Linked DNA regions of Homo sapiens. The protein of the gene in region 4 interacts with the protein of the main gene of each other region in a pairwise test. Each region holds a gene or a part of one and is shown on either strand. Other genes may lie near its edges.

Region 1 (8,654 bases), on a different chromosome or scaffold from region 4:
CTGCTGCTCCTTCTTGTTGGGCCACTGAAGCATGAAGTTCCCCAAGGGGGAGATGGTTTCGTGGGCTGCCCAGCATCCAAGGCCACGGGACCAAGGCAAGGGCACCACTGAACCAGATGCACCTTTGGGGCCAGGTGCAAGATCAGGTGACCACGGGGGCCCTGCCAGGCAGAGCCGGTTCTGGGGTGAGGTGCTCAGCCAGGCCCTCCGGCCCGGGCACGAAAAGCAGCCCCTGGGCCCGATCCGAGAGCCCAACAAGAAGGGCCCAGCCGTTGGCTCCACCCAAGGCTGCCAGGGAGCCTCACGAGATGCTGCTGACGATGAATATTTAACGCTGTGAGCAGATGCTCACAGTATGGGGGGTGGTTATAAAATAGCAGCCAGGACACAGCCACACATTCCTACAATCACACATGCAAAGGGAGAAGGCGGCAAGCACCGGCCCGGTGTACCGAGGCGGCCCACTCGGGCAGCAGGGCGCCGGCCGGACTGCTCTGCTGTTGACTCCAGTTTTCTAGGACAAGCGCATAATTGTACAAGTTTAAATAGAAATGAAACACAGGGAGTTTTTAAAAGGCTGACTGGGGCCGGGCCTGGTGGCTCACGCCTATAATCCCAGCACTTTGGGAGGCCGAGGCAGGTGGATCACTTGAGGTTAGGAATTCAAGACAAGCCTGGTCAACATGACGAAACCCCGTCTCCATTAAAAATACAAAAAATGAGACTGGGCGCAGTGGCTCACGCCTGTAACCCCAGCACTTTGGGAGGCCAAGGTAGGTGGATCACCTGAAGTCAGGAGTTCAAGACTAGCCTGGTCAAGATGGTGAAACCTCGTCTCTACTAAAAGTACATAAAATTAGCTGGGTGTGGTGGTGCGTGCCTGTAATCTCAGTTACTTGGGAGGCTGAGGCAGGAGAATCGCTTGAAGCCAGGAGGCTGTAGTAAGCCAAGATCGCGCCACTGCACTCCAGCACGGGCGACAGTCAGACTCCATCTCAAAAAAAAAAAAAAAAAAAGCTGATCGGATGGGACCATTCCCCCTCCAGCTGGCCCATGTGCTGGCCCCCTCCCCAGGCTGTCCCCTCCCCGGCACATACAAGTTCTCTAACTCCCGGACCCACCCTGTCCAGCTAAGAGCTACCAGCACTGATTCCCCAACCCAGGTCCCCCAGATCAAGAGTAGAGGCAGCACAGTCAGGTATGAGGGACACAGGGGGCACTGTCCTGGAGGGGCGGGGAACAGGTGCCCCTGGCTAGGCACAGGGGTGATGCCGACCACTCTACCCATCAGTGAAAACATTCACAGGCTGCCATGGGAGGGGGACCAGTGGGCAGGAAGCAGAGCAGGAGGCTGCAGCCAGCGGGCAGGTTGGGGAGCTGGGCTGGGCAGGGCAGGGGGCCACAGGGGATGGGAGAAGGACTAGCGGGACATGGGGGTGGCTGCTGGCAGCCCCCCATCTGGTAGCAGTGGGCCCATCCCTCCTCTTCAACCTGAAGGCCAAGACCTGGGGCAGAGCTGGCGGAGTCCCCCTGTTCCCCAACCACAGGTATGGGAAGTGCCAGCGGGCTGAGTGGGTCAGACTACCCCACATGTGGGACAGTGACACAGGACGCTCCGTGCCCATCCAGGCCCCCAGTGTGCAGACGGACAGATGGTGGGCCTGGGCGGGCAGCAGGCCTGGCTGTGGAAGGCAGACGGCCACTTGCCTCCTGCACTTCAGTTTCCTCACTGACCCCAAAAATCATACCAGAACCTCAGGGGCGCTGAAGCCCTCGGGGCAAGCAGGGTAGCCCCCAGCCTTCCCCGGGCCCACCATTCTCGGGTTCCAGCCTCTGCCGCCCGCGCCCAGGCTACTGCGTCCCTCCTCCTGGGCGCACCATGTTCTGGCCACAATGAACTCCATTCAGCCCCATGAATGAGCCCTCTCTGGCCATCGGCCTCTGCCCTCACTGCCCTCTGCCTGGAATACGCTCCCCTGCCCCCTCCTCTCTGCCTGGCTTCTTGAGAGTCACCCTCGGGTCTGGACTGAAACGCTGCTGCCTCCAGGAGGCCTTCCTGACTGCTACCTCCTCACAAATGTAGAGTAAATGGCTCCTGCTACTGACAGCTGCCCCTGAAAGCCCTCCGTGTGCCATGAGACTTATCACCTGGCACTTCTGTGCTGCACCTGAGCAGGGACCACGCTACCTTGCTGTGGCCTGGGCAATGCTGGCCCAAGGGCTTCAGAGGCTGAAGGGCACAGGTGCCTACACACAGCACAGCACATGCCAGACCGGCGGCTCTTGGCTGGTACCAGGGCTATCTGCCTCTGGGGGCATCTGGAGTCGTGGTGACAGGGGCTCCACTCTGCACAGCAGGCGGGTGGGCAGGCAGATTCCTCGGGGTGCCCGCTGCGGGCCAAGACCCTGGAGGAGCAGCTCTGTGCCCGGCCAGCATGTATCCTTCCTTCTGCCCCACATTTCCTGACAGCCTCTCTTCCCAAGTACCCTGACAGGAGGGTCAGGCTCCCTAGCCGGACTCCCCAGGTGGCGCAGGCTGGAAAGGGGTGGCGCCGGCTTCCTTGCCGACAGGCAGGACAGGGTTCCCAGCCTGCAGAGGTCCAGGCCAGAGCCTCTGCTCAGGAGCAGGAGCCAGTCGGCTCGGGAGGAGGGAAGGCAGGCCGCTGTGCGACCTTGGGCCGTTCTCCGCACTGTTCTGGGTGCCAGCCCCGTCCCCACACACGGCACCTCCCACTGGAGCCGATCACCTACAGCCTGAGGCCCCTGCAGCCTGCTCTGTGGCTCTGTCACCCCCTCCCCCAGCCCAGCATTCCGCACCGCGTGATTTATGGCTCCTGTCCGCCTGGCGCGGTCTCCATCCTGGAGCCGGCCGGCGGCTATTCCGGGGAAACAGACCAGAGCGGTGGGCCTCACGCTGGACGGTGGGTCACAGCCAGAGGAGGGAGTGAGGGAGAAGCCGGTGGAACTGGGTCCTCCGGAGGCGGCCCCCGGGCAAGGCCAGCACCACAGAGTGCACCCTGGGGAGGGACACAGCCCAGGGTCAGGGCGGACAGATGGCATCTCAGGTCCTAAAACCATGGGGACCACTGCTTCGGGGCCAGGGGCTATGCTCCAGGAAACTTCTGAGGACCGAGGTGGCCCCCAGGGAGTCCCCCAAGAGCACGGAATCCAGGAAAGGAGGTTCACCTGGCGGCCTGAGATGGAGAGAGAGCCAGTGGGAGAGAGAGGCAGGGTGGGGATGGCCTCTTTGTTCTGAGCCGCCAGCACAGGCACACTGGTGTAGACAGGGGAGCAGGCTCTCCCGGAGATCAGGTGACCGGGGTCCCTGGTGGCTCAGGGCACAGCGATGTATTGTGGGACGGAGCTACTGGTCCCCGTGCAGGAAGGAAGCTGGTCAGCCCCGTCCCCCGCCCTGGACCAAGCCTGCCCTGCCGCTCCCAGGAAAGCCCAGCCTCCCTGTGATGCAGGTCCTTCCCAAGGCCCAACCTTCAGAGACAGCCAGCTCTGCCCAAGAACCTGGCAGGGGGAACAGCTTCCCTCATGAGAGAGCAAAGGCTGGGAAAGTCAGTCCGATGGAACTCAGGCCAAGACCCTGAGTCCCCCAGGACAGGTGCCACTGGGCCAACCTGCTCCCCAGGAGGCTGCTGCTAGACACCTCCTGCAAGAGAAAAAAGGTGGAGGCGGAGCCTCACTTGGAAGGCGGAGCCTCAGGCTGGAGGGAGGAGCCTCGGCTGCCGCAGGAACCACCGACAGCACCTTCCTCCCTCCTCCACTTCCTCCATCCTCACCTGGAAGCACAGCCCCTCCAGCCTAACCTCACTAAGTCCCAGGGCTGCAGATGGGAGGGGAAAAGCAGCCAGTTCCCCTTCCCCCTACCCCCATCAACGCTGCCTCCCTGGGCAGGGGAGCGGGGGCCAGCTGGCACCCAATGGACTGAAGCGTGCCAGAGAAGGGCCCTCAGGCCACAGCAGGGGCCAGGCAGGTTGCTGGGTCAGCAGGGTGGGAGGGGGCATGCACAGGGTTCTGAACCTCGTGGCCTTGGTCCTGTTCCCTGCTGCGTGCCCACGCCTGGTGCCCATCACGCACCCACCCAGCAGGCGCTCCGATGTTTACTGTGCGAAGGAAAGAGTGGGGGCAGGGGAGGGGAGGCAGGAAGAAGAGACGGAGAGACCTCCAGGCACACAGAGGACTTGGTGAAATCTGAGCGCCTCAAGGCACAGGTCCGCAAAGGCCCAGGACGTTCCGCTCCCTATCTGGGAGTCCCAGAGGCTGCACACTCTCTCTGCCCTGGGGGCTGGGGCTGCGGAGGCCTCCCTGGCCCTGAGCTCAGGGCTATGGCTGAGGCAGAGACTGGGCTCAATGCCCACCTGCAGCCTGAATGGCCACGGCTGCTGGGGAGGCACCAGGGGCCTGTCCACACTGCTGTGGGCTATGAGGTCCTGACACACAGTTCCTGCTCAGTCAGTGCTTGCAGACAAAGACACGAGAGAGAGAAGCGTGGAGCCCAGCACCTCTCCTCCGCCTGGGATCGCCCTGAACCCCCAGCACGCCCGGTGCACACAGCCTGGCAGTGACCTGAGCCCACTGACCAAGGACACTCCTGCAGGCTGCCAGCGAGGAACCAGAGCCCGGGGGAAGGATGCCACTGGCCAGCCCCCTTTCCAAGGGGAATAAGCAGGGAAACCAGGCTCCCAGGTGGCCCTGGTCACCCCTGGCCCTGGCAGTCACAGCCTGGTGTGGTCCCTGCATGCGCCACAGAGTCTGTGTGAGCAACGGACTCTGTGGGGGAGATGGCGAGGCGTGTCCGAGGTTGGGTTATAAAAAGGGCTCCAGCTCCCAGCTTGGAGGTGCACACTCGCTACCCTAGGGTGAGGGAGCCACCAGGCTGAGGACGCCCAGGCAATCCGTGCAGGAGTCCGCACCATGAGGACCTGGGGACTGTGGCCAAGAGCTGGCGAGGAGCTGAGGCCTGCCAGCCACCACACAAGGATGTGCCTGCTCCAGCCCTGGTCGAGCCTCCAGATGAGGTGGCTCCAGCCTGACTGAGCCTCATGAGAGCCCCCAAGCCCCAATGCCCCGCAACACAGCTCACAGGTTCCTGAGAGCTAACAGACGCCCCCTGCTTCCAGTGGCTCCATTTCGGGGTAACTTGTAACACAGCAAGGGGTGACCAATATCAAAGATGGTCCCTTTGCTTCCGAGGAAGGACACCCCTGGCCACTGTGGCTCCCCGCCCTGGCTGCGCCACAGAGAACATCACTCGAAGTCGGCTGTGTGGCTGGGCTGGGCTGGGCGACGGGGCCTAGGTGAAGCCTCCAGTCGCAGCCTCCCCAGGGTGACCACTCACCTAATTCGGTGGGCTTCAGCAGCTCATCCAGCATATTAAAGAACGGCAGCTTCACCAGGCGGACTTCTGGCTTGAGGGTCTTGGCGGGCAACCGTCCCAGTCCGTTTAAGTACTTTCCGTAGAGCACGGGGTAGTCAATATTGGGGCCTGCCAGCGGAGTCCTGGGCACAGCGCCGGCCCGGTCGTAGGTGGAGTGCATGGTCAGGGGGTCCAGGGGCCGGTGCGGCTGTGGGGCAGGCTCCGAGTTCTTCTTGGCGTAGCGGGTCTCGTACAGCTCCTTGATCTTCTTGAACAGCTCAGGGCTACAGTCAAACTGCACCAGCTGGAGGGCCCTGGTGACGAGCTCGTGCTTCAGTCCACTCTTACTCCGGCCCACGAAACCCAGGAGCATCTGAAGGTCGGAGACTCGAAAACTCATCACCATGTTCTGAGGAGGAGCAAGCACACACACACTCAGAGGACACAGCTGCGAGGCAGGGGACTCCATGGAGGCCAGGCCCCGATGTGGGGGCCGTGAAAGACACCCACTCGCCAGGAAGCGCCAGCCTTGGCTGGGGCTGGTGGAGTGCCCTGCCCCTACGGTGCCCCCTCCCAGCAAAGCCCTGCCCCCTCCCTCCTCCTCATCAAACTTTCCCCAGCATCGCCAACGCAGCAAAAGCGCCTCTGACTAGGCCCCCCCTTCTATTTTAGGTTCTCTTTCCCTGTCTTCAGCCTGAAAGCATCCCCAGGGCAGGAACTGACAATTGTGCTTTACTTGTAAACAGCCTCTGCCAGTGCCTTACCGGCAAACACCAAATGCCTCTCTGACCCTCAGTCTCTACGTCGGGAGGATAATGACATAAAGCACTGGCTGGGCGGGCGCTCAACCCATGTCAGCCACAGATATGTTTTCCCTTCGGTCTCGCCAACGGTAGCCACAGTTTACTTAGTACTAATCACCTGCCGGGAACCAAGCCGGTCATGTGATTATATATTTAACTCTGATCCTTAAAACACCCCTGCTAGGCTGGTGTGTGAGCTCTGTCACAAATGAGGAACTGTCGGCTCAGAGGTGGCAGCGCCAAGATTCGAACCCAGGCCTGGCTCTGAAGCCAGGGGCGGTTCTTGCTGCCACACTACCCTCTGGATGTCAACACAGGGCTGGGCCTGTGGGGGCCTCCGAAACATCTGCTGATCATCCCAGGCAGGGTTTCTCCTCCTTGGCCCTGTGGACACTGGGGCCATCCTGGGCTCTGTGTGGTGCTAAATACCCACAGCTCACGACAACCAAACACACCTCCACACCCCACACACCTCCACACCCCACACACCTCCACACCCCACACACCTCCACACCCCACACACCTCCACACCCCACACACCTCCACACCCCACACACCTCCACACCCCACACACCTCCACACCCCACACACCTCCACACCCCACACACCTCCACACCCCACACACCTCCACACCCCCCACACCTCCACACCCCACAGCTCCACACCAAACACACCTCCACACCCCACACACCTCCACACCCCACACACCTCCACACCCCACACACCTCCACACCCCACACACCTCCACACCCCACACACCTCCACACCCCACACACCTCCACACCCCACACACCTCCACACCCCACACACCTCCACACCCCACACACCTCCACACCCCACACACCTCCACACCCCCCACACCTCCACACCAAACACACCTCCACACCAAACACACCTCCACACGTTGCCCTGAGTCCCTGGGGGACCGGTCCAAGGGGAAGATAGCAGCCACAGGGGCTGTTGCAGGACCTGGGTCAAAGCGACAAATGAGGCTTGGCAGGACCTGGCCCTCATCGCCTGGCCGGGCCTCTCCAGCGAAATAAAAACCAAACAGCAGAGCCCAGCTGACCCTGGTGTTTGAGGTGGGGTAGACTGGCAGTGGCCTGACCTCCATGAGGGGTAGGACCCTGAAGGGGAAGGAAGGCTCCTCAACAGGCTGCAGAAGCCAGGTGTCCTCGAGGGATGGGCTGGCAGGGTTTCAGGGCCACCCACCCTTAGCCCTGAAGCTGGCCTGGGATGAATGAGATGTGGTGGGAAACAGTAGCTTCCAGGAGGAATGGGGAGAAAGCTCAAGCGTCAAGGGTGTTAAGGAAAGCTGGCGGGTACCCGAAGAAACCAATAAACCATTCAAACTCCACTCGAAAGACCCTGAGGGTCGAAGCCAGAGGCAGTCCCAGTGGGGTATGTAAACTGCAGCCTCCGTGCCAGGAGGCGCTGAGGTTTCCGGCTCCTGGCTGCCCCAGGGTGAGACCAGGAGCCTAGCCGCACATTTCAGCACCAAAGCTGCAGCAGCCGGGGCCCACTGTCGGGTCCTCATCTGTCAGCTCTGATTTCTTCCAGCTGTATCGGGCCAGGGTCCTGTTGGAGACGGAGAGGCTGTCCAGGCTCAAAATGACAGGGACACACGTGCAGGCGGCCCAGCCCTGCCCAAAGAGCCTCGGGAGAAGCCTCTTCCCATATCAGGGCTGCGGGGCCCCGTGACTGTAAAGAATCGGGATGCCAGCGTCTTGCTCCCTACCAGGCACCAGCAAGGCCTGTGTCGCTAATTTCACAATGAGGACACCCATCGTGTAGGTGAGGAAACCGAGGCTCACAGAGGGAAGAGGCTGGCCCAGAGCCTCCCTAGTACATGCGTGGGACTGGCATCGGCCCCTCGGCCTCTGGCCTCCCAAGGGTGTTCCCGTCTGCTGCCCGGGGGACCCTCACTCACCAGCACACTGGCTATGGGGACCTGCATGGTCTGCTGGGCCTGAGAGTCAGGGATGCTTTGAAAACAAAAATGCCTCATCTCCCTTGGCCTGACTTCCTACCTTGTGCAGAAAACAAAAAGGCTTGCAGACAAGATGTTTCTTCTGGAAGTGGCCCAAAGCCTTAGCAGGGAGAGACGATGTCATGTGGACACTTCACACTGGCAGACTGGCCGAAGGCAGGTGGGCTGGGGAACCTGCTGACATCCTCGCACCCCGGGAGCCCCTGCCCCACCCAGGCTGGACAGTGGAGCCGCAGCTCCCGCTTCCCGGAGCACACCCCTTAGGTGGCCATATGTTCACGACTCAGATTTCCCAGCAGCTGCCACCTCGGAGGAGCCTGCCCTTGACACTGGAGGGAGTGCGGGGGGGACAAGCATTCAGGAAGAAGCCCCAAATGCCCCAAGATCACTTCCTGCCCTGGCTTCAAGCTGACCTGCTTGCCGTCAGAGCTGTGTTTATAAACAGTGCCAGGCCCCGGCAGCTTCCAGAGTTTCAACTCCAGGCTTGCCTGGAAGT
Region 2 (9,570 bases), about 120 Mb from region 4:
CTGAACAGATATAACAATTGTGTGGACTCTGATGGGAAGCACAGCACCTCGATCCTGCATATACTGCACAGTAACCTTGAAGGCAACACAGGTCATCAGAACATCACACCAAACAATAACTTTGTATTTGTTTCTCTACCTGAAGTTACAATATAGGAAAACAAATGCTATTTTTTCCAGTTAGCTATTATCAAAATTATGGATCTTCTGTGCTGATGTAATAAATGAGACAACCAAGCTTTATGATCATCACTTACTTGAGTTTTAGAATCAGGGCGTAACCAAGGCAAAGTGCCATTACGGCGTAGTTCTGCCAGTTTGGCATTTAGCTTGTGTGCCAAGACAATGGTTAAAGGCATACACTCCTCAGTTTCATCAGTGGCATAGCCAAACATTAAGCCCTAAAGAAAGAAAAGTCACCAATGTGATCAAGCTCCAGAATTTAATGTTAGAAGAGATTAAAACAGCCTCTACACCAAGATACCTGGTCTCCAGCACCAATGTCTTCTTCATTTCTGTCAAGATGAACACCTTGAGCAATATCTGGTGACTGTTGCTCCAAGGCTACCAGCACGTTACAAGTCTTGTAGTCAAAACCTATAAGCAAAAAACACAACATCTTGTTTACGTCCTAGAAATACCTGCTGTTTACAGCAATTATCTGGAATTCTAAACACTGCTGAAGAAATCAAATATACCTAAACCATCGGACCTTTTAGAGAATGAACAGAATAGGGCTTAGTGTATAGTAAGATACAACTGGAGTTTAGGATTAGCAGGAACATTCTAGGAGTTTCTTCAAACCTCACAGCTGTTACCTAGAAAAAAATGAGCAAAATCATTAAAACACACCTTTGGAAGAATCATCATATCCAATGTGTTTAACAGCTTCACGAACCACTTTCTGGTAGTCAACAGCAGCTCTGGATGTAATTTCCCCAGCAAGAAGGATCATTCCAGTTTTAGCAACAGTTTCTAATAAAAAGAGACATTCAACTCAAACATCACTTCTATAAAAATAATTTTTATGCTATCTTTCCACCAGTTGATAAGCACATTCTGAACCTACCACAAGCTACTTTGGCATCAGGATCCTGCTGAAGGTGGGCATCAAGGACAGCATCACTGATTTGGTCACAAATCTTATCTGGAAAAGAGAAATTCCTGGCTCAGTTTCTTTAACTTTAAACAAAGTATGTATGTATGTATGCAAGCTCCCTCCCTGTTACTATCTGTAAAATCTTTGGAGATTTTAAAAAACATGCTTAATACATCTTAATTCATTGTGTTTGCACTTTCCTCCTAAAATTCAAAGTTTGCATTATAAATCTAATCACCAGAAAGGTGAACTGTTAGTCCTATATCCTTTAAAGAACAGAATTTGCCCTATATCATATTCACTTCCACAACTGTACCAAACCCCTCTGCACCTGGGAGTCTGGTAGAACTGAGGCCACAGGTAGGCCAGTTTCCCTAATCTTAAGGAACACCAATTATAATGAGCAACAAGATAATTCGATTAAACAATTAAATGAAAAGCATTTTCTGACTAAAATGGCAATTATCTGATTTTGCTGTTAGGAGTTGCGCAGGAAACAAAAGCTCAACAGTGTAGAAGATGCTCAAACGTATTCCGAATCCATGTCTCCCTGCTTTGTCATCTATTGTTAGGAGGGAGAACAAATATCTCCCTAATTCAAGTTCGTTTTTCTGAATTTTCTATAACCGCCTAAAACAGAATCCAAACATAATGTGGAAGCCAGACTGCAGGCTCTGAACTTCGGTCTACTACTAACTGGTGTAACAGCTAACCTTCAGCACTCATCAAGATCCTGGGTTTGTCCTCTCATACCACTAAGTTACTTGTGGGATTTCATCATGGGCACAGTAAACTGACCAGACCCTAAAGCCACCAGATAGATAACTACTGCGGTCATCCTAAGGGCAGAAACAGCCAAAAGAGCCAAATAATCATCTTTACTAGCCGATATGCTCAGGCTGAGATTTTCAGTTCCTGGAAATATAGCTTTACTCCTCCTTCACGTGCCAATTGATCCCCATAATGGCGGTTGAGCGGACAAAGCCTCAAGTAAAACCCTGCACCGAAGACTTTAAATGCGAACCCAAAGCAATGGCAGCTCCTAATTCATGCTTCCCATCCTTTTCACAAGGGGTCCAAATAAGGACTGCCTTCTTGGACATGAGCTATATTTAGTCAGAGGCCGTCACCTTGGAGGCAAGGCCATATCCGCCGAAGGGCATGTGCGTATTCTCCAGTGTGTAGTCAAGACCTAACCACTGAGGCAGTGGAGCCAGACGACGTCCCAAGGCATAGGCCCCCCACCCCTCAAACTGAGGGCCAGGACAGCCGGGGAGGCTCACGGCTCCCCCTCGCCCAGATACCACATGCGGCAAACACGTGGTCGCCGCTGCAATGCGGGGCGCGCGCTCCCGAGGGCCGGACGCGAGCACGCGGGGCGGGTCGCCCACTCCAGGTTTGTCAGACGGCAGGGCCGGGAGGGGTTAACAGTGCCCTCCCTTCCCGGCCAGAACTCACTAGCGACCACAGCCCCCGCCCTTCACGTTTTCTGGAACCTTCCGCATGCCTAGGCGCGCGACCGAATGAAAAGGGAGGGGGGAAGGGAAGGGTGGAGAGGGGAGGGGGAAGAGGAGCGGCGGCCACGCGCCAGGCCCTGGCGGCGCCACGAGGAAAGCGCGCGGTCGCCGCTCTTCCATCACCCGGCGGACGAGGACGACCCGCGCGGGCCCCACCACCGGCCGGCCGCAGCCAGCCGGACCTTGGCGCTGCCTTCTGCCCCGCCCCACGCTTCGCTTCAGGCCGTCCCCTCACCTGGGTGGCCTTCCCCGACCGACTCTGAGGTGAAAAGGAATGTGCCCTCCTCGATGAACGCCTCGTGGAAGCCGTTGAGCTGTCCGTTCATGTTGGTGTCGGTGTGCGGAAGTGGCCTTACGAAGGAGCAGCGGCGAGGCGGCAGCGGCTGCGAAATGCGCAAGCTGCGGACAGCGTTCTACTCGTAGCAGGCGGGCGGCGCGGAGCGAACGAAGCAGCGGGCGGTGCGGCCCGGTATTTATAGAGCAGCGCCCGCGCGCGCCCGGCTCGGGCCCCGCCCCTCGGCGCCGCGCGCCAATGCACCACTTGCGCGGGGGTCGGGGGAGGAAGGGCAGCTCGCCCCGCGGAGTCCGGGCTGAACCACACTGCGCGGCCGCGGGAGGTGCCGTGGCAATCCGGCCCTCCAGAGACCGTTCAGCTATCTTGAGCCGCTAGAGCTAGGAGAAAAATGCAGACGCGAGGAGACGTGGGGGATTGCTCTTCCTTGTTTGATGTGGGAGAAAAAGCGACTGGGGCTTGCTGGACCCGCTCCCCTGTGCGGTGACATGGCACCTCCCTTCCGACCGTTGGCCGGGATAGCTTTCCCGGAGGTCGCGTCCCCCAGCGGAGGCGGCGGGAATCGCGGAGGTTTTGTGCTGCGGCTGGGGTCTTTCTGGCCGTCCCGCCTCTAGATGCCGGGTGGCAGGGAGCCGGTGGCGGTCGGCCATGTGAAGGTGGCCATCTTGGCCGGCCAGCGAGGGCTCCTCACGGCCTTCCTTCGGCGTCCCTGCCCGGCTCGTTGCCGGCCCCGGGATATCTGAGGGGCGCAGGCCCACCTTCTAGTCGTTTCCTGGTGAATGGCTCTGCTGAAGATGGCCGGAAAGCAGATTAATGAAGGTGCTGCCATCGATTTAAACAATCGCCCTCCTGCCCGCTCCCCTGCGCTAAAGTTTCTGAGGGATCCTCACCCTTCGTGGTTCGTGGACTTAAAAGTGGAGGCAGCGCTCCAGCCTTTCCCTCCAGAGAGAAAGGAGGCCGCTCCCAAGTCCGTCCTTGCCCCGTGGCCTTCCTGTTCCTTTGAAGGGGGGGGGAATCGATGTTTCAATCCTCTGTTCAGGAGAATATGGAACGAACATTTCTTTTTTGGTGGGTGGGGGCTATTCGTTCCCTTGAATGTGCTTAAGCAGATCTCTTGACGGCGTGGAATGGGCTGTTTCATGAAGCTTTCACTTTAAAATGTCCACCTGCGTTTGTCCCAGTTTTGCCCAATAAAGGAATTACAGGGAAAAAGAGCGAAACAAAACTTGAGCCAGCAAGGAGTATGGAGTCCCGTTTGGAGGGAGCCCGCCTTGGGGGCGGGGGTCTCTGCAGCCTGTTCTGGGGCTGGGCCTCGGTGCAGGTCTGGTCGGGCTGGTGGCCTGGTGGCCCTGAGCGGAGCGCGTGACAAGAACGCCGGGTTTAATGAGGTTCTCAGGGAACGGCCTGCTCCTAGCATGGGATGTACTTTACGCTGGGGAGGTGAAGGAGACCCCTAGTAACAGTCTCCAGCTGCCTACTGCTGGCGGCAGTAGAACAAGGTGCATTCCCAAGAACAATCCTCTCCGTCGGTGCAGGAGGAAAGGTGGGATTTGCTAAAGGCTCAGTGGGAAACAAAGGAAGCACTTGGGCTGTGCTGGGGGCATCCACAAAGAAGATAAAGGGCTCCTCCCCAGACTCAGTGACCACATCCACGGTCGCTCAAAGCAGGCAGCAAGAAAAGGTTCGACCACAAAAGAGACAATAGGTGATGATATTTTTATTCGTTGCTTTTTACTTTTCAAGCTAACCCTTCATGGGAAAGTAACTGTATAAGACTATTAAATTTTTTTGTTATTTTTTAAAGGAGAATGCCAATTTATTAACTTACAATGTGTAATAAAATTGTCAACTGGAACAAAATGCGTGTGTAGGCTGGTCAGTGCATTATCTCCCAGCAGAAAAATCTATATGGGAAGCCAGAATATAACTAGAAGGTTATTTTATTAGGGAGTCAGAACAAGGAGCGTAAAGTCAATGATTGGCTCATTAAATCCTGATACCCCTGTGCTACCAACTCCACAGTGGGGCTAGGCCTGCCAAGGAGATGAGATTTAGCTGTACATAGTTGCTTACCTACTTCTCTCACTTGTGAATAGTGTGTAGGTGTAATACAGTAAGAGTAGGGGTTTGGAGTCACGACCTCTCTATGCATCAGTATCCTCGTTCTGTAAAATTGGAATATTAATAGTACATCATAGGATTGTTTCAAGGATTCAAATAGTGCAAGTAGAGTCTTTAGCACAGTATCTAGTACATAATTTGTTTTAATGTAAGCTGTAAAAAAATTAACTATATTTGCTGTGAATTACTTTTCAGTGGCTTTCAATTGCTGTCGGGATACGGACTAAAATCTCTACATACTCAAGGCCCCAGTGTGATTTGGCTGCTACTTCTGCAACCTTACCTTGTGCCACACTCTCCTTTCTGTGTTCTACTTGGATTTTTTAGTTAGTAGCAGTTAATTTTATTAATTTCATAGTATCAAAACAAAGGAGGACACATTTTCATTTATTTTATATTATTCGTATTGTCCCTTCCTCCCTTCCACAAATATTTATGAGCACATCTGTGAGTCAGACCCAGGAGCAAATGCTATAACAATCCTGGTCTCTGCCCACTCGGCGCTCTAAATGTGGGGAGATGCCTGGCTAACTCCTTATCCTTCTCACTCCAGCTCAGCTACCACTTCCTGGATGAAGCCTTCATCTACACAGATTTGTCACAGGGGCCTGTGTTTTATTTCATGGCACTAAGTGCAGTTTCAAATTATAGATTTGGTGATTATTTGATGAATGTCTCCAATTCCCAGTTAGGCTTGTAAGCTCCATGATAATGAGAAGGTGGGCTGTTTTGCTCAAGCTTTGTTACTGAATGCCTGGCACACACAAGGTGCTTAGAAATGTTCAAGAGGGAGAGACAAGAAAGGAAGGGAAGGAAACGGAAAATGAACGAATATAAAGATGGCAGAAGGGGGCGGGGCACGGTGGCTCACGCCTGTAATCCCAGCACTTTGGGAGGCCGAGGCGGGGTGGATCACGAGGTCAGGAGATCCAGACCATCCTGGCTAACACGGTGAAATCCCATCTCTACTAAAAATACAAAAAATTAGCTGGGCGTGGTGGCGGGCGCCTGTAATCCCAGCTGCTTGGGAGGCTGAGGCAGGAGAATGATGTGAACCCGGGAGGTGGAGCTTGCAGTGAGCTGAGACCGCACTACTGCACTCCAGCCTGGGCGACGGAGCAAGACTCCGTCTCAAAAAAAAAGATGGCAGAAGGAAGCAGAGAAATGAGAGACTCTGGCGATCATGTGAAATCAATGGAAAGAGGTCCTGCTTTGTTTTAGTCGTAAGCATTGTAATTAATAAAATTAAGACTTCTTTGTTAACAGGGAAGCACATGGCCATCCTGTTCTGACAGGAATAAGATTTCTGATTTCATAGATGCGTGTCCTAAGGGTGAACTAAACCAGGAGAAATTGTTGGTTTATTTCCTGTTTATCGTTAATGAATTTGTTGAATGTGAAGTGTTGTAAAGCACGTAGGAAAAATCTAATCACTGCCTAAAGGCTTCAGATTTCTCAAGCCAGAGAACATTAATGTAGCAGTAACCCTACAAAAAAGGCAAAGTTGGGATTGGATAAAAATGGTATTTGTGACTCAAACAGCAAATAAAATAACTCCTTATTAGCCTGTCAGTCATGGGGAGAGTTCCAGAAAACATTTGCAGTGCAAGAAGCTGTTGATGTGGCAGGAGAAAAGAGGAGGGTGACAGTAGGGATAGCAAAGAGCAAGTGAAGGTGTGGAGGTGTTGAGAAGGAGGTTCCTAGGCTGTGTGTCTTAAGAGCACCTTCTATGTGAAGACAGACCAAGAAGAAAGAAATGTAGGCCACGTCTCCAAATTTGTGGCAGTTCTTTAGGGCCAAAGCTTAGATATCTCGGATGGCCTCAGAGGCAAGCTAGTTCTAGTGGGATCAGAAACAAGTACTATGTGAACCCCCTCATTATTAGGCTTTTTGTATTTTGTTTTTATTTCTATGTTTTTCTCTTTTGATACTTAAATCTTTTTACAGTCCCAATAAAGAAGTCCTGAATGGAAGAATAGATATGGTACAGTGAAGAAGACACTGAAGGAGATAATAATATGATGACAATAGCTACACTTTATTGTGACAGGCACTGTTGTAATATCTACTACTCACAACAGCTCTATTTCTCTTCCTGTTTTACAGATGAAGAAACTGGCATGTTATTCGTCCATGTCACACATCAAATCAGTAGTGGAGCTAGGGCCTTGAGCCTGGTCTGACCTCTAAATTCATGCCCCTTCTTATAGCCAAACAATAAATACTGCATACTCCCTGAGGTCGTTAATATTAACAATTTGGTTTATATCCTCCCTTTCCTTTTTCTGTGAACACACACACGCACACATCTTACTATTCAGAGAAACATGGATTTTTTTTTTCTTAACAATTTTCATGACTGTCTCTCCAGGATACTATGTAGAGCTGTAAATCATTTCCTTCTCTTTTACTGTGGGAAAATATATACAACATAAAATAGGTAGCTCACCAAGGAGAAAATGCAAATTGCAATAAACATATGAAAAAAATGCTCAACCTCGTTGATAGATGTGATGTTAATATATGTGTGAATTTATATATGTTTTTATCCATGGTTCCTGGCTCATAACTCCCATAGCCCTTGTTATACAGTGTTTCGTTATAATGTTGAGAGTGTTAGGACTCAGGAGCAGGCCTCAGGAAACAGAATCTCTCTGACTTTTTCCTGCTTCTCTTTCACCTGCCCCAAGGCAGGACTCTAATCTTGCCCTGCCCTTCTGATCATGGGTCATAAGACCCTCATTCCAGAGAGGGTCCTACCCCATACCCTGGGACAAAGAATGCTGAGAGGACTGGGTTCAGAGAGTTTCTGGAGAGCTGAACAGGTGGAGGCTGACAGGAAAGTGAATAAGAACTCATCCACGTGCCAGGAGGGTGGCACACCCCAACTCCATGGTAACAGAAGCTCCTACACTTGGGACCCTCCCAGACCTCACCCTATGTATCTCTTCATCTGGCTGTTTGTTTGTATCCTTTAAAATAACCAGTAAAAATGAGCAAGTGCTTCCCTAAGTTCTATGAGCCACTCTAGCGGAAAAAAAAAATTTTTTTTTTTTGAGACAGAGTTTTGCTCTTCCACCCAGGCTGGAGTGAAGTGGCGAGATCTCAGCTCACTGCAGCCTCCACCCCTGAGTTCAAGTGATTCTGCTGCCTCAGCCTACGAGTAGCTGGGATTATAGGCGCCTGCCACCATGCCCTGCTAATTTTTGTATTTTTAGTAGAGACCGGGTTTTGCCATGTTGGCCAGGCTGGTCTTGAATTCCTGACCTCAGGTAATCTGCCCACCTCCGCCTCCCAAAGTGCTGGGATTACAGGTATGAGCCACCGTGCCCGGCACACTCTAGCAAATTAATCAGACCTAAAGAGGAGGTGGTACCATGACTGTGGTCTGTATGGATCTTCACCTTTACTCTAGGGGCAGGAGATACGTGGGAATGCTGTCATCTGCTCTCCTTGCAGGTGGTCCGGTAGCTGCACAGACAGTGACCCTTGCTGGACAAGTACCTGGTTGATAAAATTGCTCAAAACCTGCAAATATACTACACATGGTCCACTGCTGTAGTGAAGTGCCGGCCCCCTGTACCCCAGTGACTTGAAACTTTTTAAATATCTGACAAAATCTATGGATCTCCCTAGAAATCACACACACACATGGACAAACATTTTATGTATAATTTCTGAAACTTAACCATATATTGCAAGTTAAGAATCCTTGCTAGGGCCGGTGCGGTGGCTCACGCCTGTAATCCCAGCACTTTGGGCGGCCAAGGTGGATCACCTGAGGTCAGGAGTTTGACACCAGCCTGACCAACATGGTGAAACCCCGTCTCTACTAAAAATACAAAAATTAGCTGGGCATGGTGGTGCATGCCTATAATTCCAGCTACTCAGGGGGCTGAGGCAGGAGAATCACTTGAACCTGGGAGGCGGAGGTTGCAGTGGAGCTGAGATCACACCACTGTACTCCAGTCTGTCGGGACGACAGAGTGAGACTCCGTCTCAAAAAAAAATTTTTTTTTAAATCCTTTGGTATCTCTCATAAATTTAAATTCACATTCCCTAGTATCTGCAGTCCCACCTCTAGAAAGCTATTCTAGTCCAGGCACGGTGGCTCACGCCTGTAATTCCAGCACTTTGGGTGGCCAAGGTGGGTGGATCACTTGAGGTCAGGAGCTCGGGACCAGCCTGGACCAACATGGTGAAACCCCGTCTCTACTAAAAATACAAGAATTAGCTGGGCGTGGTGGTGGTGCCTGTAATCCCAGATACTTGGGAGGCTGAGGCAGGAGAATCACTTGAAACCCGGAGGTGAAGGTTGCAGTGAGCCGAGATCGTGCCACTGCGCTCTCGCCTGAACAACAAGAGTGAAACTCTGTCAAAAGATAAAGAGAGGGAGGGAGGGAGGGAGGAGAAAAGAGGAGGGGAGGGGAGGAAAGGAAAGCCTGGCGCGGTGGCTCACGCCTGTAATCCCAGCACTTTGGGAGGCCAAGGTGGGTGGATCGCGAGGTCAAGAGATTGAGACCAGCCCGGCCAACATGGTG
Region 3 (4,771 bases), on a different chromosome or scaffold from region 4:
GCTAGAATTTTTGGCATGCTAATGTCTTTTTACAGATGACAAGGTTGTGATTTGATCCATAACTACGGCCATGACTGCCAGGCTCTTGAAAAGATCTTGAATTCTTTTCACATACTTATTACTCAAAGGCCATATTCCTTAGAACTGTTACATTTATTTATTAGTAACACCTTAATGTAAGATGGTAAAATAGCATCTGATTGAAGGCAGAAAAGCTCTCCTGCCATTGTCTGGCTTGCAGGCATAAGATTTAACATCTTTCTACTTACATATTTTCACCCATGATGGCATCCACTAAACCTAAATCAGTGTCTGGCTCATGAATGAACAAAATATAAGCTCAGAATGGCATAAGAAAACCTTATTCATGGATCCCATCCAAACACAAATTCACAATGCTTAAAAATGAAAAGTAAATCCTGTAATGCTCAAATTTATGTAGTTATCTTAGAAAAAAAAAATATTTTTAATTGCCTGGAGTCCTCATAGCTTCTTGTTAAGCTTAACAAGAGGTATAAAGCCATGACTAAAATATTCACACTCCACTCTAGTCCCTATTTAAAAAAAATAAAAAAGGGAATCACTAGTTTATTCATCTTGCCTAATGACACAGAAGGGCAAAACAAGCACCCAAACAATGAATAATAATGTAAGAGCTCAGACTGTAAAATCAATATGTCAGATCAGCAGAGCTTTGCTTCGTTTTAGTGCTCTCATGTCTGAATGCAGCACAGCTTATCTTCTGAATTATATATATATATATTGGCCTAATTACATAAATATTGACTTTTCCTTATATGAAGTTTATTCTTTCAATCTCTCTGTAATTACCATGTCAATATTTGTGGCTGTAGTAACAATGAATTTAAATCTGTTAATTGTGACTGATAGTGGCATGCTATGAGATAATTCAGTCACTTAGTCTCAGAACACTGATGGCACTAGATAATAAGTGATGAATCAGTAATTCCCTAGGTATATCGTACTAAGGTAAACATCTTTAAAAAGCAATTCTTTCAACCCAGTTAATTAAGGGGATAGTTTTTTCCTCAACTTGTCAGGTTTCATAACGTACGGAAGTAATAACCAGAATGCGACTGGATCTTGGTGTATGACTTTGCCCGCTTTTTTTTAAATGAAACACTTTATCCCTAACTTCATTCTCCAGTCCACCCATTAACAACTTCTTTGATCTGTTGATAGATATCTACACCTCCATCCTCACAGCTGTATGTGTGTATGGAAGATATAATTTAACATTTGTTGCTATTATTCTTTGCTATTTGCTATTTCCATAAAGGTCCTAATTCCTGATCTCACTTACATGTGGAATCTAAAATAGCTGAAGTCATAAAAGGGGAAAGTAAAAGGGTGGCTGCCAGGGGATGGATGTGGGGAAGGGAGGGGAGATGGTGGTTGGAGGGTACAAAGTTTAGTTAGACAGGAGGAAGAAATGTTTTAGACCATTGCGCAGCATGGTAACTATCATTCATAATGTACTGTATATTTCCAAATTGCCAAGAAGGTACATTTCAAATGTTCCCTCCACAAGAAAAATGCTAAGGATGTGAGGTGATGGATATGCTAGCCAGCTTGACTTTATCATTCCTCCTGGTATACTTGTCAAAATATCACATTGTACCCCATCAATATCTATAAAATTTGTCAAGTAAAAATGAAAATAAATTTGAAAAAGATCTTAGGCCTACTTTATTCTAATGTAAAATATGATCTGTAGAAATTCTACTTTTAAAAAATATTTTATTCAATTATATCCCCTCAACTGGTTTTATTTTCATGGGAAAAGTTTTCAGTTACTGAAGGTGATAAATCTCTGAAACAAGAACTAATCCCATACCTAGGATATATTAATTAATTAAATGTCTTCACTTACTTACCAGTGGCAGAGAAATGTTCCAAAAATTTTAAAAAGCTAAAAATCTTTTCACTTTGCTCTTATAATATTTGAGAATTTTCACACAAGAGCTTGAACTCTCCAATCTAAGTAGGACAGAAATACCTGTGTCATATTAATTATGTTAGAGTTAGGTGAACATAGAGAATGGTCCCCAAAAACAATGCTGTCCACACTTTGAGTTTAAGAGTTGTTCTAGACGTATTATGGTGAAGTGGTCATGCATCACCTGTGCTTTCTTATTTGCCTCTACAGGGATGCCAGATGATATGAACTTCAGTGATGTAAAGCAAATCCATCAAACAGACACTGGCAGTACTTTAGACACAACAGGAGCAGGATGTGCAGTGGCGACTGAATCTATGACATTCACTCTGATAAGTGTGGTGATGTTACTTCCCGGGATTTGGTAACTGAACTCTTCTGTCCTGACATACCTTACTGAAGTCTCGATTTCTTCTCTCTCTGCATATGCCTGGAATAAGAGATCCTTTTTCAATGTAACAATTATATTTATGAAAAGATATGTTACACTAACTTCTCAGAAGCCAAGCTGAAATATTCATAAAGTCCCTAAAACTCAACGTTTAAATGACACACTTTAAAAATATGTCTTTTTTCAATCTAACTGAAAACCTTCTTAACTTCTAATATATTAAATCTGAAGATGTGAAGGGCACAGAAGTGACTTTGAATAAGAAGAATTTAGTGTATCTGTAATTTTATTATCAATTCCAAGCCCCTTCCTTTCTAAATTAAAAATGTTTTCATTTGAAAGTGTATTTGCCAGACAATGAAAACAGTATGCAGTATTTCTTAAAGTATTGAAATTAGAATATCATGAAATAAATCAAAACATACAATGGCAAGTAGTATGCATGCATATTCAAGAGACTCTTCCATTTTTGCAAGCTGTAGAAGGAAATGTCTGAATGTCTATAAGTTATGGGGTAGATTCTTGAGAAGCATTTCATATAATTTCACTGAAGAACCTTGATAATTTTGACCCACTGTAACTTAGCCACTGATGAACCTTAAAGCTGAGTATTTTATTAACACCTGATTTGTATTCCATTATATTCAAAATGCATCTTTGGTATTGTGCCTCTGCTCCCATCTCTCTCTTTGCCTCATAGATTTAGCTATGTTGGGAAGCACATGCTTGCTCTAGGAATATCTCCAATAAAGCTGTTAACTATTTGGTGGAAAAATTTGAAGAATATTTGTCATTTTCTTCTGGCAAAAATGCTATTTTCACCCATTTTCAAAATATTATGTACTACTTTTTAAAGCCTGATGTTGTACAATTGGCTACCTTTGCATTTCTAAGGTTCCTATGAATATCTGCAGACATGTACAGAAAAGATGATATGCAACACTTTAGCTCTTTCCTATTTGCTCATTAATGGAGCTGCAAACCAACAGTCCCTAATTTCTCAGTTGGGATAAGTTGCCTCAATAGACACTAATAGGATATGTATATGGCTATACTTGAGGAAAAGAGAAGTTAGTTTTTATTAATAAGTATCACATCCAGTCTACAGAGAGAAAATATAATTAATACAAAGTCACAGAATAGAAAAGGGAATTGCTGACCTCAAATAAAAAAAAACAAAAAAAAATTTGAAATGACTTCTGACAAAGACGTAAACAAGACACAGCCAAATGCAAACATTAATAAGGTAAAATCCGTTTCTGCTAGTCAGGAAACAATATATGATCAAACCTTGTTCTCGCTTAAGTTCTCAATTAACAAAATGATCTAAGGATGGTTAGTTTAAATCACAACATTTTTAAGCTGCCCAATCAGGTTTTACCCTCCATTCAAACATGCCTCAGAACCGTAAGTGTTATTCTACCCATCAGTTGTGGATGCCATTTTCCTAGGCTTCCATTCCACACCTAACATTCCCTGATCCATTCAGTTAATAACTCATTTGCACTCACCTTGACACACTCCACAAATTACAAACTTAACCCTATTTTGAAAATTTTTTACTTCAACCTCAGCTCTTCATTTAAATCAGTCTTGGAAAAAAGTGATACTAAGGCACTCATTTGCTGCCCTCCAGCCCAAGTCATGATTGGCTTGCTACGGCAAAATTTCAGACCCAACTTAAGAGGAATTTAATTCTAAAGACAAACAAACTGAAGAGCATGCTTTAGCAGTCTAAGATATATGGATAAAATTAATTGACAGAAGATAATTTCAGATATGGCAAGAAATGGACAAAAGCAGAGTGGTAAAGTCAATACAAGAAATGATTATTTTTTTTTAAACTAAGTTTTACATGCTCAGATGGGTGTTATCTGCAGGTGGGCACTTTGGGGACTATATAAGCAATAATGGTGTTACTAGAGCTTAAAACACTGGGGTTTTCAGAATTTCTTTAAAAGCCTAAGGCAAAATTGTTAATATTCTCAGTAAGGATATACTTATCCATTAACACTTCCCATTCTGTGACATTTCATATCTACATAGTTTCTTATGAATTGCAAAGCTCTTTCAAATGAGAGAGAGTATCTCATTTGGACTTTCTTCGCCCCCTCAAAGATAGGCTTGATTTTCAGTCAAATAAAAACAATAATGCTGATTTTTTATATGGCTCAGAATTTGCTTCTGGAGAGTTTTTCATTAATAAGGTCTAAGAAAGTTTTGAGCAATGATACAAGTGTTGGATATGTGTCTACTTTCCAAGATTATTTAATAGATTACATCAGACTGAATGTATGTATTTAAAAATATCACACACATAGTCACATTTTATGCTGGTGTAATTTTTAAAAGAGCCATATTCTTGAATCCCGGAGTTATTTTTATGAGTTTAAGTAATCATAAAACTTCGTCTGATATTT
Region 4 (8,654 bases):
AAAAACAGGCTGCCGGGCGCAGTGACTCACGCCTGTAATCCCAGCACTTTGGGAGGCCGAGGCGGGCAGATCACGAGGTCAGGAGATCAAGACCATCCTGGCTAACACAGTGAAACCCCGTCTCTACTAAAAATACAAAAAATTAGCCGGGCGAGGTGGCGGGCGCCTGTAGTCCCAGCTACTCGGGAGGCTGAGGCAGGAGAATGGCGTGAACCCCGGGGGGCGGAGCCTGCAGTGAGCCGAGATCTCGCCACTGCACTCCAGCCTGGGCGACAGCGAGACTCTGTCTCAAAAACAGACAAACAAAAAAAAAAAGAAAGAAAAAAAAGAAACAGGCCAGGCGTGAGTAATCCCAGCACTTTGGGAGGCCAAGGCAAAAGCATCACTTAAGGCCAGGAGTTCCAGACCAGCCTGGGCAATACAGCGAGACTCAGTCTCTATTTTTTAAAAGAAAATATATTTTGAAATTTTGAAAAATAATAAAAAAGAAATGCAAACAGATAAAGATACGGAAACTAGACAGAAATTGTTAAATTACAGATGTGCTCCAAGATATACCACAACTAGATAACACAGCTTCCAAAAAGACAAAAAACAAAGATAACAGAAAGGAGAAATAATAAAAGAAAAATTCCCAGAAATAGTCTCTAGACTGAAAAAGCCCACAGAGTAACCAGCACAGTGAACAGAAAACAAACAATGAAACACCTCACAACAAGGCAATCCTCATTTCAGAATGGTGGTAACCCTTCCACAGAGGACAGACACCATCACCAACAAAGGATTAAGAATCAGAATGGCATCCAAATTCTCAACAGCAATTCCAAAAGCTAGAAGATGAAGTGCTTTCAATACCCAGTGGAAAAATTATTTCCAACCTACAATTCTAATTCTATACCCAGTCAAACCGGCAAGTATAAAGACATCACTGAAGATATTCAAGGTCTGGGTATAACATATACCTCCCATGTATCCTCTCTCAAAAAATTATTGGAAAATGCACTCCAGCAAAACAACATCCAGAAATTAGAGTATCCAAAACAGGAGAGAAGTGAAGAGAATTCCCAGGGAAGTTCCCGGTTCTAATAGCTGTGCCACAGATGTAGAGATCAATGAGCTAATTTGGAATATGAGGATGAGGGACTCCAAAAGACATATCTCCAAGGAAAATAAACAAAAGTAACTCTCTGCTATGTTTTTAATTATTTACAGGAAGTTTCCATTATCAAAACTTTCTTAGGGATAAATTTGTGATAGGTACATAGAAAACGAAGCAATCAAAATGAAAAACAATTTTAACCTCAAAGACCACAAAAAGTTATTTAAAAAGAAAATATAACTGTAGTATCCAACAAGGCTCTACTGTAATCAATATTTACATGGTCATAATAACATTAATACTGATTTAACCAAAAGATGCTACACCTACAATGGAAGGATTCGGTAGGATGGTGATTAGAGAATTAAGTGTACATTTTCCACAGTAGCAAGTCACTACATAATACATAAAACTGAAAAAAAAAAAAAAAAAAAACAAAAAAAAAACAGCTCCTAAAGCAGTAGTATAGCATATTATTTAGAAATGTGTAGGCCAGGCACGGTGGCTCACGCCTGTAATTCCAGCATTTTGGGAGGCCAAGGCGGGTGGATCACTTGAGGCCAGGAGTTCGAGACCAGCCTGGCCAACACGGGGAAACCCTGCCTCTACTAAAAATACAAAAATTAGCAGGGAATGGTGCTACACACCTACAATCCCAGCTACTCAGGAGGCTGAGGCATAAGAATTGCTTGAACCCAAGAGGCAGAGGTTGCAGTGAGCTGAGATCCTGACATTGCACTCCAGCCTGGGTGACAGAGCGAGACTCTGTCTCAAAAAAAAGAAAGAAAGAAAAAGAAATGTGTAGGTAAACAGCCAAAGAAACCTCTAAGAGTTGAAAGTGGTTGTTTCTAGGGGGCAGGAAGAGGGAGTGGAGAAAGATGTGACAAGGGAACATTTTATTTGATAATAAGTTCAGTGCTATTTGACATTTTAAATTATGCACACGTAGTTTAAAAAAATAAATTTAAATTTAAAAATATAGTATAAAGACAAGCATGCTATTTTTGCCTTCAAGTAGTTTGGAAAAGGAAGTAGCTTACTTTCTCAACTTCCTTCCCTTCTACTGCTGATTTACCTATCATCTTAACCTACGCCCTTACCTCTTCCCCTCCTCAGAGAAAAAAATGTCCTTGTTTCTGAGATTTCCAGACTCTACCATGTACTGGATCCCATGCCTCTCGCATTTTCCATAACCTTGCTCCATCTACATTTACCATCTTCTCTTGAATTTACAATCTTTCATTCTATAAATCCTTTCCCTAAAAGCTATAAACAAGCTGAAGTTTTCCACATCCTGTAAATAACTGAAGCTTAAGCACACCCTTCACCCAGTTTTTTCACTTTCCTTCCGTCCACATTAAAGTACTTTATACTCATTACCTCTACTTCCTCATCCTCCACTTTGATTTGTGCCCCCAACATGCTTCTCAAACTACTTTCTCTCACAGATCATTGACTAATCTACATGCCAGATTCAAAGGCCTATTCTCCAGGCTCAGCCTACTTCACGACATTTGAAAATCTTTCCTATCTCTCCTTGAAATACAATCTTTCTTTTCGGCTTTCTCAACACTATTCTACCATTTCTCCTCCTACCACATTTCACAGGTTTCTTCACTGGCTTTTCTTTCTACCCTTAAAAATGCTTGTTTCCTCCCAGAGTTCTATCTTCAGCATTTTCCCTATCATTTTATCCACCCTAGTGATTAGTCATTTCGAGTGTTGCCCACATGTAAATGCCTAGCATGATGTACATGTTAAATGAATGTTTACTGAACTGCAATAAATGAGTCCTAATTTTTACCCCCAAGTTCAAAGTGTATCCCTGAGTTTTAAAATGTTATTTGCCACAATCTAGAAAATTATCTGAAGTTCCTGAGAGCACAAACCAAATACATCCACAACTGAGTTCATTTTCTTTTCCCAAATCTGTTCTCCTCACTGTTATCAATTAGAACCACCATCCAAACTATCACCCTCAACTCCCCGTTTCTCAATCCCTACATCCAACAGTTTGCCAAATCAGTCTTTTCAATCTTTTTTACTCTTGCCATTCCCACTGCCATTCCCCCAAAATTCAGGTGATCAATGCCTTTGTGAGTTTCTCCTATCTCAAGTCACACTCTACTCATTTTATATATATATATATATATATTCTATTTATTCTAAGAATATAAATACTAGTAATAATAACTGTGAGTGCCTAAAGCCTTGGATGAGAAGGAAGACAATGATGTGAAAATATCTGGCTGGGCGTGGTGGCTCACGCTTGCAATCCCAGCACTTTGGGAGGCCGAGGCGGACAGATCACGAGGTCAGGAGTTCAGGACCAGCCTGTCCAATATGGTGAAATCCCGTCTCTACTAAAAAAAAAAAAAAAAAGTACAAAAATCAGCCGGGCATGGTGGCACACGGCTGTAGTCCAGCTACTCAGGAGGCTGAGGCAGGAGAATGGCTTGAACCTGGGAGGCGGAGGTTGCAGTAAGCCGAGATCACACCACTGCACTCCAGCCTGGGCGACAGAGTAAGACTCCGATAAAAAAAAAAAAAAAGAAAATATCTGCCAGGCGCGGTGGCTCATGCCTGTAATCTCAGCACTTTGGGAGGCCGAGGCGGATGGACCGCCTGAGGTCAGGAGTTCGAGACCAGCCTGGCCAACATAGTGAAACCCTGTCTCTACTAAAAATACAAAAGTTAGCTGGGCGTGGTGGCAGGCGCCTGTAATCCCAGCTACTCAGGAGGTTGAGGCAGGAGAATCGCTTGAACCCAGGAGGCGGAGGTTACAATGAGCCAAGATCTGCCATTGCACTCCAGTCTGGGCAACAAGAGTGAAACTCCATCTCAAAAAAAAAAAAAAAGAAAATAAAATATCTAATATTGAGATTCCTATACCCCACACACAGATTACAAAGATTTTATTCCTTGAAACAATTATCTACGGTAAGTATCATTAGTATCCCCTTTTTACAAGTAAAGTGAACTTGCCTAAAGTTAAACTGCTAGCAAGTAAATGGCAACTCCAGGGTCTGAACCCTGACAGTCTGGCTCCAGAGTACATACTATTAACCATGGAATACTTTCTAATGTATATATTCTATTCAAAGTCATTCTGAAAACTTACGTCTCTCCCTTCTTTCTCTACTATTTCCGCTCTCCCCATCCCAACACCCTATTACCCTACATTTCAAGCCACAAAGAACTGAATATGATAGGCTTATTTTCACACCTCTAAGATCCAACTGCAAAGTTCTGTTCTTCCCTTTGTAATCCAATTCAAAATTCATCTCCTCTGAGGGAACCTCTATACCCATCCCCTGTGGAATTATTCACTCTCTAAGCCAGAAAACTCATCACATTATATGCTTATGTATCTGTCTTACATGGCTAGTTTGTGAGTCTCTGGAATTCCTTGTGTGTTTTACATCTTTGTATTACACTGTTAATAACACAGAGTAGTTCAATCAAAGCTTACAGAATTTAACTTAATTAAATGTAAATTCTACTAGCCAAGACATAAAACTAATAGTTTCTACTTTGTCTCATCTTCATTGCAAAATATAGACATCACAAACCAAAAGAATTCCCTTTAGCCGGGTGTGGGTGACTCGTGCCTCTAATCCCAGCACTTTGGGGGGCTGAGGCAGGCAGATAGCTTGAGCTCAGGAGTTGGAGAGCACCCTGGGCAACATGGTGAAACCCAGTCTCTACCCAAAATACAGAAAATTAGCTGGGCATAGTGGCATGTACCTGTAGTCCCAGCTACTCGGGAAGCTAAGGCGGGAGAATTACCCGAACCCCGGAGGCAGAGGTTGCAGTGAGCCGAGATCGTGCCACTACACTCCAGCCTGGGTGACAGAGACCCAGTCTCCAAAAAAAAAAAGAATTCCCTTGAATGTGTAATGTTAGCAGCAATCCTCCAAATGTTAGAGAAACACTAAATTCTTAGAGACATATTTCATAAGGTACTAGAAAGTAGACATCAAAGATGACACAAATATAAGTTCTGGTTATCTTGCTTCTTGATTCTGCCTATTAGTCCAAAGAAGTTATCACTTTTTGCTGCCCTTGGCACTCCCCAACTCCAATAAACAAACGAATTTATACACAACTTAATACATCCAAAGGAAGGGGGAAACTAGCAAGAACACGACTTGCCATATATATATATATATATATATATATATATATATATATATATATATATTTTGTGGTGGTGGTGGTGGTTGTTGTGACGGAGTTTTGCTCTTGTTGCTCAGGCTGGAGTGCAGTGGCACAATCTCGGCTCACTGCAACCTCCACCTTCTGGGTTCAAGTGATTCTCCTGCCTCTGCCTCCCCGGTAGCTGGGATTATAGGCGCCTGCCACCACACCTGTCTAATTTTTTGTATTTTTAGTAGAGACAGGGTTTCGCCATGTTGGGCAGGCTGGTCTCGAACTCCTGACCTCAGGTCATCCACCCACCTTGGCCTCCCAAAATGCTGGGATTACAGGTATAAGCCACCGTGCCCGACCAAATTTTTTTTATTATACCACACACCCTAAGTAATTCTGATACAGATGAACCACAGACTACACTTTGAGAAACACCATTCTGGATGTTCACAGGCAATGTTATCACCAATTTGAAACTTCATACAACCATGAAAACTGAACCTACACTGGTAATTTATGTTAAATACACTAAAACTAGAAGCAAAACTAATATGATACACAACAGCTAACTTTTATACTGAGGTACTGTGCTGTTTTTCAGTTTTCCCTTATTTAATCCCTACTATCATATGAAGTAGATTTCACCACCCATTTCACAGATAAGAAAAATAACTTTCCATATCACATGGCTTCTAGTTGGCAGAACACAGGTATTAAACTCAAACTGTCTACCCAAAGTATATCCTCCTCACCTCGATGTTATACCATCTCTCCATTTGTAATCTATTTGACATTTTAATAAGTAAAATGAAGTTGGGTAAAAGGAGAGAAGGCACAAAAATAAACTTTCTGGTTAACACTGTTGCCTAGGTACCTTTTCTAAACATACCTCAGTTCCTAATGACAAACGGCTTTGCTATGGAGATGACAGTCACTGAAGGTGGGAAGTTTAAAATATCTGTCAGGGATGGGTGCTTGGATTACTTTATAGTAGTCAAGAGTAGGAAGTTCTACACCAGCCAATTAGCTCTAACCCTAGAAGAATAAAGCAACTGGATAGGGATCTTGATACCTTCAACTTAGGGACTCTGAGATACCGGATCCCTAACAAAGGTTACAGCATCCAGTTCATCTGATAAGACACCTAGAAGTCAACAGCCTGATCTAGATGGACCCTGAAATTTGAGTCCTATGAGGTTTATAGAATTATATGGGGTAGACCCTTACCCTTTACGGTAGGGATTTTTACATTCATCACAGCTGCAAACTGGTGGTAGCCTCCCTTTAATGAAAAAGGGACTCTGACGTTTACAAAGACTTTCCTTCCAGATTTAGTCAGATAAAAACAGCAAATGATTTCATCGTAGTTTTGTGTGTGTTATGAACACCTGAAATCTGAAAACACTTTGTTCTACTCTGCATGGATATTTACTAGAGTGAAACAACAATTCCTGGGAATGAAACTATGAGACATTCAAACTAGAGTATGACTTAATAACAGACAATATTTCTCACACCCAAGTGAAAGTGCTGCACTAGAAAAATAAGAGTTTTTATTTTTCTAGTTGGCGGAACACAGGTATTAAACCTGACCTCAGGTGATCCACCGCCTCGGCCTCCCAAAGTGCTGGGATTACCCCTGTGAGCCACCGCGCCTGGCCAAATTATTTTTTATTATACCACACACCCTAATTCTGATACAGATAAACCACAGACTACACTTTGAGAAATAAGAGTTTTTATTTTTCTGGATTTATTTATTTATTTATTTATTTTGATAGGGGAGCAAATGGGGATAATTTTACAGCAAATACTCTACGGGATGATCTAGGGAAGGGGAGCGTTCAAAAACCATGAAGAGAGGACATGGGAGTAGCCTGACATCCCAGGAAATAGAGCCCTCCTAGAGATCAGAGAAAAAGAGTACCTTCCTCCACACCTTGCCAATACTTAATTCAACCCAGTTCTCCTCAGGGTGTTTCTCTGAGTGTCAAACAGTTGTTAAGAGAGCCAGATTCTGTTATCAGACTACAGGCTGTGCCTCCTTCTGCCACCTCTACTGCCCACTTATAAGCCAGCTCCTTCCCTTCCACCTGATGCACTATGCTGGCTCCAGAAGGCTGAAGGACTGAAGCAGTTTTGTTCATATCTGTAAGAGTTACTTAACTAGTGGCTGGGCGCGGTAGCTCATGCCTGTAATCCCAGCACTTTGGGGAGGCCGAGGTCGGCAGGTCACCTGAGGTTGGGAGCTTGAGACCAGCCTGACGAATGTGGAGAAACCCTGTATCTACTAAAAACACAAAATTAGCCAGGCGTGGTAGCGCATGCCTGTAATCCCAGCTACTCGGGAGGCTGAGGCAGGAGCATCGCTTGAACCCGGGAGGCAGAGGTTGCAGTGAGCCAAGATTGCCCCATTGCACTCCAGCCTAGGTGACAGAGTGAGACTCCATCTTAAAAAAAAAAAAAAAAAAAAAGTTACCTAACTAAGTACATGTAATTTTGGTGTGCTATATATTTCCCACATTCTATCTTACACATCATGATGTCACTTCCTTGATATAATATAAAGACATGGTCTTTGGAGTACAACTGACCAAAGTTCAAATAAATACCAACTCTGCCACTTGTTACTTAACCTCTCTAAAAGCTATAGTGAGGGTTAAATGAGATTTTGCATAAAAACCACCTGCCAAATAGTAAGAGTTCAGTAGGTGACAGAGGTTATGAAGCAGGGAGGGGAAATCTAGTACTTTTATCACAGTTTTAGAAAAGCATTCTGCATTCTCAAAAGGTTTAAAATAGTGCTCTGGGCTGGGCAATCCTAGCACTTTGGGAGGCCAAGGCGGGCAGATCACATAAGGTCAGGAGTTCCAAACCATCCTGGCAAACATGGTGAAACCCCATCTCTACTAAAATACAAAAATTAGCCGGGCATGATGGCGGGTGCCTGTAATCCCAGCTACTCGGGAGGCTGAGATAGGAGAATCGCTTGAACCCAGGAGACCATGGTTGCAGTGAGCCGAGATCACATAACTGCACTCCAGCCTGGGCAGCTGAGCAAGACTCCGTCTCAAAAAATAAATAAAAATATAAATAAAAATAAATACATAAATAAAACAGTGCTCTGGTTCTAATTAGAAAACACTATTCGGGCCGGGCGCAGTGGCGCATGCCTGTAATCCCAGCATTCTGGGAAGCCAAGGCGGGCGTTTCACCTGAGGTCAGGAGTTCGAGACCAGCCTGGCCAACATGGTGAAACCCTGTCTCTACTAAAAATACAAAAATTAGCCGGGCATGGTGGCGGTCGCCTGTAATCCCAGCTACTCAGGAGACTGAGGCAGAATCGTTTGAACCCGGGAGTTGGAGGCTGCAGTAAGCCGAGATCGTGTAACTGCACTCCAGC

Evidence for each region.
Region 1: the proteins of FAM117B (region 4) and PIAS4 interact in binary tests that used the Homo sapiens proteins (3 or more experiments, as listed by UniProt).
Region 2: the proteins of FAM117B (region 4) and MAT2A interact in binary tests that used the Homo sapiens proteins (3 or more experiments, as listed by UniProt).
Region 3: the proteins of FAM117B (region 4) and GPC5 interact in binary tests that used the Homo sapiens proteins (3 or more experiments, as listed by UniProt).

Annotation. Positions count from the first base shown.
Region 1 is NC_000019.10:4,010,043-4,018,696, reverse strand, and holds part of PIAS4 (E3 SUMO-protein ligase PIAS4), read right to left. Parts: exon of another isoform or gene 8,283-8,654; coding exon of another isoform or gene 8,199-8,282; intron 5,775-8,198; coding exon 5,348-5,774; intron 1-5,347.
Region 2 is NC_000002.12:85,532,660-85,542,229, reverse strand, and holds the start of MAT2A (S-adenosylmethionine synthase), read right to left. Parts: upstream 3,063-9,570; 5' UTR 2,943-3,062; coding exon 2,852-2,942; intron 1,148-2,851; coding exon 1,070-1,147; intron 976-1,069; coding exon 853-975; intron 598-852; coding exon 485-597; intron 402-484; coding exon 258-401; intron 76-257; coding exon 1-75. UniProt on the Homo sapiens protein: Catalyzes the formation of S-adenosylmethionine from methionine and ATP. The reaction comprises two steps that are both catalyzed by the same enzyme: formation of S-adenosylmethionine (AdoMet) and triphosphate, and subsequent hydrolysis of the triphosphate.
Region 3 is NC_000013.11:92,864,112-92,868,882, forward strand, and holds the end of GPC5 (glypican-5 precursor), read left to right. Parts: intron 1-2,170; coding exon 2,171-2,328; 3' UTR 2,329-3,126; downstream 3,127-4,771. UniProt on the Homo sapiens protein: Cell surface proteoglycan that bears heparan sulfate.
Region 4 is NC_000002.12:202,636,945-202,645,598, reverse strand, and holds part of FAM117B (protein FAM117B), read right to left. Parts: intron 1-8,654.